Linked DNA regions of Homo sapiens. The protein of the gene in region 1 interacts with the protein of each later gene in a pairwise test. Each region holds a gene or a part of one and is shown on either strand. Other genes may lie near its edges. The genes, in order: MAN1C1 and SMAD9.

Evidence for each region.
Region 2: the proteins of MAN1C1 (region 1) and SMAD9 interact in a two-hybrid assay, tested with the Homo sapiens proteins (one large-scale study listed by BioGRID and IntAct).

What each region holds. Positions count from the first base shown.
Region 1 is NC_000001.11:25,780,608-25,785,079, reverse strand, and holds the end of MAN1C1 (mannosyl-oligosaccharide 1,2-alpha-mannosidase IC), read right to left. Parts: intron 4,141-4,472; coding exon 3,968-4,140; intron 2,496-3,967; coding exon 2,380-2,495; intron 1,418-2,379; coding exon 1,291-1,417; 3' UTR 1,237-1,290; coding exon of another isoform or gene 1,230-1,236; 3' UTR 630-1,229; downstream 1-629. UniProt on the Homo sapiens protein: Involved in the maturation of Asn-linked oligosaccharides. Trim alpha-1,2-linked mannose residues from Man(9)GlcNAc(2) to produce first Man(8)GlcNAc(2) then Man(6)GlcNAc and a small amount of Man(5)GlcNAc.
Region 2 is NC_000013.11:36,910,043-36,913,854, forward strand, and holds part of SMAD9 (mothers against decapentaplegic homolog 9), read right to left. Parts: intron 1-3,812. UniProt on the Homo sapiens protein: Transcriptional modulator activated by BMP (bone morphogenetic proteins) type 1 receptor kinase. SMAD9 is a receptor-regulated SMAD (R-SMAD).

The DNA.
Region 1 (4,472 bases):
TGCCAGATAGTCTTTCGGCTGCTCCTTTTTATCTTCTGGGTCTTGGCTTGAAGGTCACCTGCCCAGAGAGGCCCTCCCTGACCCCGTAGGGTAGGTCCTCAGCTGTCTATCTATCTCCTTTGTAGCATTTCCTATGACCTGCAGTCACTTCACTTACTTGTCAGTTTCCCTTACCATCGCTTTCTCCCCTCTTGACCCCTTGACTGCAGGGCTTATGACTGTCTCACTCTCAGCGGTGTCCCTGGCCTCTAGCCCAGTGTCTGGTCCGTTGCAGGCACTCACCAAGCATCTGCTGAATGATGGAACAGACGGACACTCAACTGGGGTGGCCAGGAGACGGCAGGGGCGAGACTCTCCTTTGCCTTTTTTGGGCTGTGTGACCTCAGGCAAGTTGCTGCTCCTCCCTGGGCCTCTTCCCAATCTAAACCTGAGTATAAATAAACAACTGCATCTGAAGGGCTGGCCTCATGCTTCTCGAATATATCAGGACCGATTTCAGGGGAGGTAATAGAAGTTGGAATCGTTTACTAAATTATACCTTAAATCAACTGCTGGCTGATTATTATTTCTGATGGTAACATTGCAATGGTTTTTCTAGGAGTCACTGATGTGCAATGAGCCCAATCATATTTCTTATTCAATAAACTCTTTTATTCTAGTCCACAGATTTTTCCATTACAATAATAATGAAAATAGCACTAGTAATTTGTAACACTGAGGCCCAAAGGGAAACCCCTCCTCAAATTATAAGGTAAATGACACAAAGTTGAACATAGGGTCAGTGTTGGGCAAAAAGCATTTAAAATATAGATAACGGGGTCAAGATTTTGTGTGTGTGCAAACACTGGGTTTTGTTTTTCAGGATGACACCATTTTAGAAAGTGCATGATTTTGAAAACTATATGTGTAATTGTGACAAAACTAAACTGTAGAGAAAAGACAAAATCAAGCAAAAACAAAAACCAAGAAACCAAAAGGAAGCAAATCAAATACAAGGGGCGGATATGCAAACCTCCGGTCCTTTGGCCCTGGAATGGCAAGTGAGTGGGCTTCATAGAAATTCTCTGTAGAAAGGAATGTGTGGGCCAGTGTGGCCATGGCCCTGGCCTGACATCGCTGAGTCTCCAAGTCTTGTCTCCTCACAGAGGAAAAGAAGTTGCTTGTCCGACACATCTGCTGGGGGTCTGCCCGAGATGGGGCCTTCGTTCCCAATCCCTTTGAGAACAGTCTCAAATCCTGAAAAGGCAAGGCATCCCTGCGGCGGCCCCAGGGCGGCGGCAGGAGATGGGGTCAGTGTCTGCCCCAGGCTCTGCCGGAGCTGTCTGAGTGGTTCACCGGGAGTGGGTGGGCCTCGGTGTTGAACACCCAGTCTTCCAGGGAGAGCAAGTCATCTTCAGAGAACAGAAGATAGAGATACCTGTGCCCCACGCAGGGCAGGGAAGCAAGACACAGTCTGTCAGTGGCCTGGGGAAGAAGGGTGGGCCTGGGAACAAGTCTCAGGGCCTTTGTGATAGGCCTATGGTCAAGGTCTGGAGCCTTGCAACCCCAAAACTGTGGGCAGCAGGGTGGGGGTGCTAGTCCTGGGGAAGGAGGCTGTGGCTGCAGAGAAAAGCCTTGAGCTTTGGGGTCAGAAGGACTTAGTTTACCCTGGCTCTGCCATCAGCCAGCTTCACCTGCCCGGCCCTGTATGTGAGCCCTTATGGTCCAGATTCTCTGCAGGGGTGCCTGAGGGCTGCTGCAGTCCAGTTGACTCTCACGTGCCCCGCTGCTGCCCACTAAGACTCTATATTCAGAGTACACATTGGGGCACTGAGAAGAACATGGGGTTGTGACTCTAGAACTCCAGCTTCCAGGTTGTGGGTTTTTTCCTCACTGGAAGGAACTGATCATTCTGACCCACCCTAAAGGGTTAAAGCACAAGGGGCTTGCTTTGGGGAACAGTGAGGAAGTGGGATGGCCAACTTCCATGGCATGAAATCGAGGAGGGCACAGCAGCCACACTGCAGAGGCCACAGGAGGGAAAGTCAATGCCAGCAACCAGCACTGACATCATCATCGTTAACCCTATCCCATTTTACACACGAGGACGCGGTTCCCAGAACGGAAGCAACCTGGGGAGATAAGCGAGAAACTGAAGGAACCTGCGGTATCACACGGTGCGTCCCTAGGGAACTTGGATTCTAGCCCAGTCTCACTCTCCGAGAAAGCGGCCTGGCCCAAGGCTCACACCTGGGGTGCAGCCCTCTGGATCCCAAGCCCTTCACCCCTTTTGGGCTCCCGTCCTGTGACCACAGAACCTGACTGTGGAGGGGAGGGACTGCGGACCCCTACCCTCAACCTCCCACCTGTCCATCCCTAGGAAGAGCCCACACTGCTCACTTTAGTGTCTCCGCTAGAAAGAAGCTCTGCTGCTTGTTGTCGTGGTTGGGGGTGCTACTGTACACGTCTTGGATCCCAGAGAAACCGGCTTCTGTCCGACAGTATTTCTCCAAGGCCTGAGGAAGGGGAAGAGGAGGAGGAAAACAGCCTTAACACGGGACAGGAAAGGCCCCTCAAGACTTGTGCATGCCTGGCAGGCTGGAGCTAGAAGAAAGCAGACAGCACCCCCACCCCTTGGCTGGGGACTCCTGGCATTTGTGGGAACAGAAGGTCAAATTATTCTTTCGGGGTTTAGCCACCTGTCCCCAGGCTGGAGGGGCCACACTCCTTCCACCCACACCTCTGAGAGCTCTGGCCCGATGGGCTGCCTGTCCTGAGCTCTTCACCTGGTTTGAACTTAGAGGAAGCTTCTCTTTGTGTTTCAGGGGACTAGGCTGGTCTTACAGATTCACCCACAGTGGTAGGCAGAGGTGAAGAGAAGCCACGGGTGATGGCCATGGGCTGGGATTTGGGGACGGACTTGGTACTCCAGGGATTCTCAGGAGAGATGGCCCCTGGGCTGGAGGCAAGTGAGCCAAGCCATTCATCTTTCTATATAAATGCATTTTTTTTTCTTGAGACAAGGTCTCATTTTGTCGCCCAGGCTGGAGGGCAGTGGGGCGATCAGAGCTCACTCTGCAGCTTCAACCTCTGCAGTTCGAGCAATCCTCTTGCCTCAGCCCCTCAAGCAGCTGGGACTATAGGCGTGCGTCACCATGCCTGGATAATTTTTGTATTTTTCTGTATAGATGGGGTTTTGCCGTGTTGCCTATAGGCTGATAAATACAATTTCTACCCACGGAGGGGGTCTATGGACTGGGCATAGGAGCACAAGACGCTTGGCCTTTGAAGGCCAAGAACAATGGTCCTGGGGAAGCAGGTGGACTTAACAGGGCCAGTAAACCTGAGCATGCCCTGGACCCCGTCTGAGTGCAATGCTCGGAATGGGCACGGGGGTGGTGGGGGAGATAGGGGCAGAGAAGGCTCAGCATCCACCAGGGAACCTGCTGGAATCCCCACACCTGCCTTTGACACCTCCCCCAAGACAGCCATTAAATTTCCACCTAGGTGTGGGGCCGGAGGCTGAGGGCAGGGTAGGCCTCAAGGGCCAGTAGAGACTAGGGTGGGGGGGTCCCTCAGGCTGGGCTGCCTGTGGGAAGAGGAGGGAGGTGGAGGTGAGCTGCCCAGCTTCGAGATCAGGAAAGCGTCTGTTGGGACAGCGGTGGCCGCGTGGTGCCTGCGTGGTGCTCTAGGCAGCTGCCTAGCCTCTGACCCTCTAAGTTTGCTGAGGCCTGGTCCCAGGCCCCAAGGATATGGGCACTCAGAACCCTCTTCACAAGTCTGGCCTGTCCTGTCTCAGGACAACTTTGCCCAGCTGGGGACTCTTGGCTCTGTAACCACCACCTTGACCCTTTGCACTCTGAACTGTGGTCAGAGGTCAACGTGGCTTGGCCTTCCACTCCAGGCCCAAGCCAGGGCACCTAGCACCCAGCCTGTAAATTCTCAGGGGCATCTAGCACCTTGCTGCCCATCCCTGGGGCCCACTCACCAGCACCACCTCCCAGCCCCACTCCCTGTAGATGGGGTTGTGGGTCTGTCGCCACAGGTACATGTAGCTCTCCACCACCTCTGGCCGGAGGATGTAGTAGCTCTCGCTCAGCTGGGTGGCCACGGCCTCTCTGCCGGAGTTAAACCAGAAGGCCTCAGGCCCAAGTTTGGTGTCTGGGGAAACAGCCAAGCAGAGGGCCCAGGTCAGACCTCCCACCTCCTGCTTTTCGGGATCCAGGAGAGATGTCAGTTGCCTTGAACCCGCGGCCAGGGTGATGTCAGGTGTGTGTGGGTGTGGGGTGCCCCTGCCTGGACTGCTGTGTAAGGCTGCACCGGGCAGATGCACAGCTTCCCTCTTGGCCTGGGCTGGACAGAACAAGACCCTCGGGGACTGGAAATGTGAGCAGCTTTGGACTCTGAGAGTCCAAATGAGCTACTCAGCAGTCTGGGTAGGTGAAGGTTTGGGCGGGGTTCCACAACTGTGTACTTTGAGGCAATAGCTCTGC
Region 2 (3,812 bases), on another chromosome or scaffold:
AAAAATTATCCGGGCGTGGTGGCGGGCGCCTGTAGTCCCAGCTACTCAGGAGGCTGAGGCAGGAGAATGGCATGAACCGGGGAGGCAGAGCTTGCAGTGAGCCGAGATCGCGCCACTGTACTCCGGCGTGGGGGACACAGCGAGACTCCGTCTCAAAAAAAAAAAAAAATTAAAAACAAGCTCTTTAAACTAAAATTTAACCACCATTGACTCCAGGATCCTCAAATACACTATGTTCAAATGTAGAGATGGAACCATAGTGAATATGAGAAGAGGGAGGGATGAAAACACAGACCACAGAGAATTTGCAGGGCAATGAGACGACTCTGCCTGATACTACCATGGTGGATACACGTCATGATACACTTGTCCAAACCCACAGAATGTACACCACCAAGAGTGAATCTCCCAAATTTCTACTCTGAGTCTGTATCCATACATTTTACACTTAAAAGCCCACTAAATATCATGAGGTGGGGGTTGTGAGTTGACGCCTGTAACATCAATTTCAAATAAGGCTGTTCGCAATCTGGCCTCCCCAGACTACATTCCCAGCCTCATCTCTTTTCACTCCCTTTGCCCATCACTCCTTCCCTCCCTGCCCAGAAGGCCCCTGTGCAGCTCTATCTTTCCTGCTCCTTCTTCAAAACAGAGCTGGAAGCCAACTTCCTGGAAACCTTCCCTGGAGGCCCCCAGGCAACAGCACTGATCAGCTCTCTGCTGCTCCTCTGGGCTTCCACAGCACCTAACATGTGCTAGTCACTCACAACAGCACTTACCACACTTGAATCCCCAGATTTGGTAAGTGTTTTCTCCAGAGATGCCTAGCCTTCTATCAGGCCACAAGCCAAGCCACATTGTGGTCTGTACTACCTACCTAGCATGCAGGAGGCCATCAATAAATGTTGAATGAATGAAAGTAAAATCCAGTTTTATCAATACCATTAACTATTGTATTATTAATATTATTATTACTATTTTGAAAAAGGGTCTTGCTCTGTCACCCAGGATGGAGTGCAGTGGCGTGATCATGGCTCACCGCAGCCTCAACCTGCCAGGCTCAATAGATCCTCCCCCTGCAGCCTCCTGAGTATCTGGGGCTACAGGCACGCCCCACCAAGACCAGCTAAATTTTTAAAATATTTTTCTCATAGAAGGGTTTTCACCATGTTGTCCAGGCTGGTCTCAAACTCCTGGGCTCAAGCAATCTGCCCCCCTTGGTCTCCCAAAGTGCTGGGATTACAGGCATGAACCATTGCACCTGGCCAACTATTGTATCATTAAGCCCCATGTAATTAATTGAAGTTCTAACCTAAAGCCCATTGCTTTACTAACGCAATACAATAAATTTCTTTGAAAGACAGAATTATATAATGCATTCCCTACTTCCTATGCATAGTCTATCTACTTAAGGTAATATTATATAGAGCATAATCTGTCTGAATACTTGTAAAGTATTAAATGACTATAAATCATCTGTTTAATATATATATTTTTAATGATGTGTGGGCAATTTTTAAAATTTTATAGATGTGTGTCTCGAGGAAGGCTGTTTCCCGGCCAAAGGCTGCCTGGGGGGGGGGGGGGCGGGTGGAGTTCATAAACTGATAAAGAATCACAAATAAGCCGTGTTATGAACTGCTGTTCGGGGAAGCTCAATTTATTTTTTATTTTTTATTTTTTGAGACAGAGTTTTGCTCTTGTTTCCCAGGACGGAGTACAATGGCACAATCTCAGCTCACTGCAACCTCTGCCTCCTGGGTTCAAGCGATTCTCCTGCCTCAGCCTCCCCAGTAGCTGGGATTACAGGCATGTGCCACCACACCCAGCTAATTTTGTATTTTTAGTAGAGATGGGGTTTCTCCATGTTGGTCAGGCTGGTCTTGAACTCCCAACCTCAGGTTATCCGCCCACCTCAGCCTCCCGAAGTGCTGGGATTGCAGGTGTGAGCCACCGCACCCAGTCGGGGAAGCTCAGATTTTTATTTGCTAAAGAGAAGCATGAAGCAGTGGAGATGGTGTGTCAACTGCTTAGCTAGGAGTTGTGGCCATTTAAAAGCATGCAAACCACTTGAATTTGTCTTCACTCTTCCAAATACCCCTTTGATTATGTGATTCTTCTGTTCAAACCATTTAATAGTTATCATGACTACGGGTTAAAATTGAATAGTTCTCCTTTGCCTACAGATTAAATCCAAATTCCTTGCCCTTCCTTCCACCTTACCCTACAAAAACCAACCTATTTAGGGAAGAGAAAGGTGGGATCGTTGAAAACCCAACATATTTAGGGAAGTGAAAGGTGGAGTGGTTCAAGTATCAACAATGAAGTGGACACTACCCTAGCAGCTGAATATTTCAAGATAAGACATGGTCCCTTTCCTCTATACTACTATTGAGACAGCAATCTAAACATATTATTATCAGGCAAGTAATAGGTGCACTATTACAACAGTTACTAGAAGAGTGTATTCAAAGTGGTCTGGAGGCCCCTGGCTGGCTAAAAGGGTTGGGTGGGGTTTCCTATAGGACCAGCCATGCAAACTCACTCACCCTTGAACCAGTAAAGGGTAGCAGGGAAAAACAGGAGGAAACTGTACAAAGGCTGGATCCTCCTCCTGACAGACTCAGGAAGTAGTGAAATTCCATGGCCTAGGGATGTTCTCAGCATCTCTAAGTTCTCATAAGGACTTACTGAAAGAATCTCTTCCTGTTTATGTCTTCTATTTTACCTCTACCTTCTAGTTTACCTCCCAAATCCCAAATGAGATCATTCTCATTATCCTTGACAAGACTAACTAAAAATTCACACACAGAAAATACGGAAGTCTAATCAGGAAAAATACAGTCATCCCCAGGTATCTATGGGGGATTCAGTCCAGAATCCCCACAGACACCAAAATCCAAGGATGCTCAAGTCCCTCGTATAAAATGGTATATTTGCATATAACCTACCACATCCTCCCTTATACTTTAAATCATCTTAGCTTACTTATAATACCTACTATACTGTAAATGCTATGTAAATGGTTTTTATATCTTATTTTTTATTTGTGTTATTTTTAATTTTTTCTCCAATATTTTTCATTTGTGGTTGGTTGAATCTGTTGATGCAGAAACTGCTGACTCACAGGGCCAGCTGAATAGAGAAATAAACCCAAATAGATTACAGTTTGGGGAAGTAAGACATCTTACTATTGGAGAAATATTTTAATATTTGCTTTCTTGATCTCTTTCACGCTAACTACACTATGAAATCCTGGAGACTAGGATTTTATTTTTGTCACTTCATTTCGTTGTGTAGTCCCCAGGGCCTGTTCTGGGGCCTCATAGGCAGGGTAGACACAATAGACACAGAGTAAATAATGGTTGAATGAATATCCTATACAAGCCCCATAAATTTACAAGTTCCACCTTCTAAAGTGATTGCTACACCCACAAAATTGCAACACTTTAAAACCCCAAGATATAATCAATACAACTTTAAAAAAATAAAGTGTATTTAGAATATCTTGTAATAAAATTAGATGCAATGACAACAGAAAGCAAGTAAAACTGCCACTCCTTTGAAATAATACCAACTTGTCATTATTTGCAAACACAGCCAACACCTAATGACTGCTTTGTGTAAACATATAGTCAATAAGCTGAAAGGGAAGCATTCATGTCCATAAATGTTTGTCTTTGACAAATATTTTATTCAACTCCTATTCCTAAAAATAAAATTCTACTTCCACTAGAAAACAAAGAATGACTAAATGCATAAACAAGACAAAGAAAACCACATGAGACCTAAAATCTTTTTAGCTTAACACA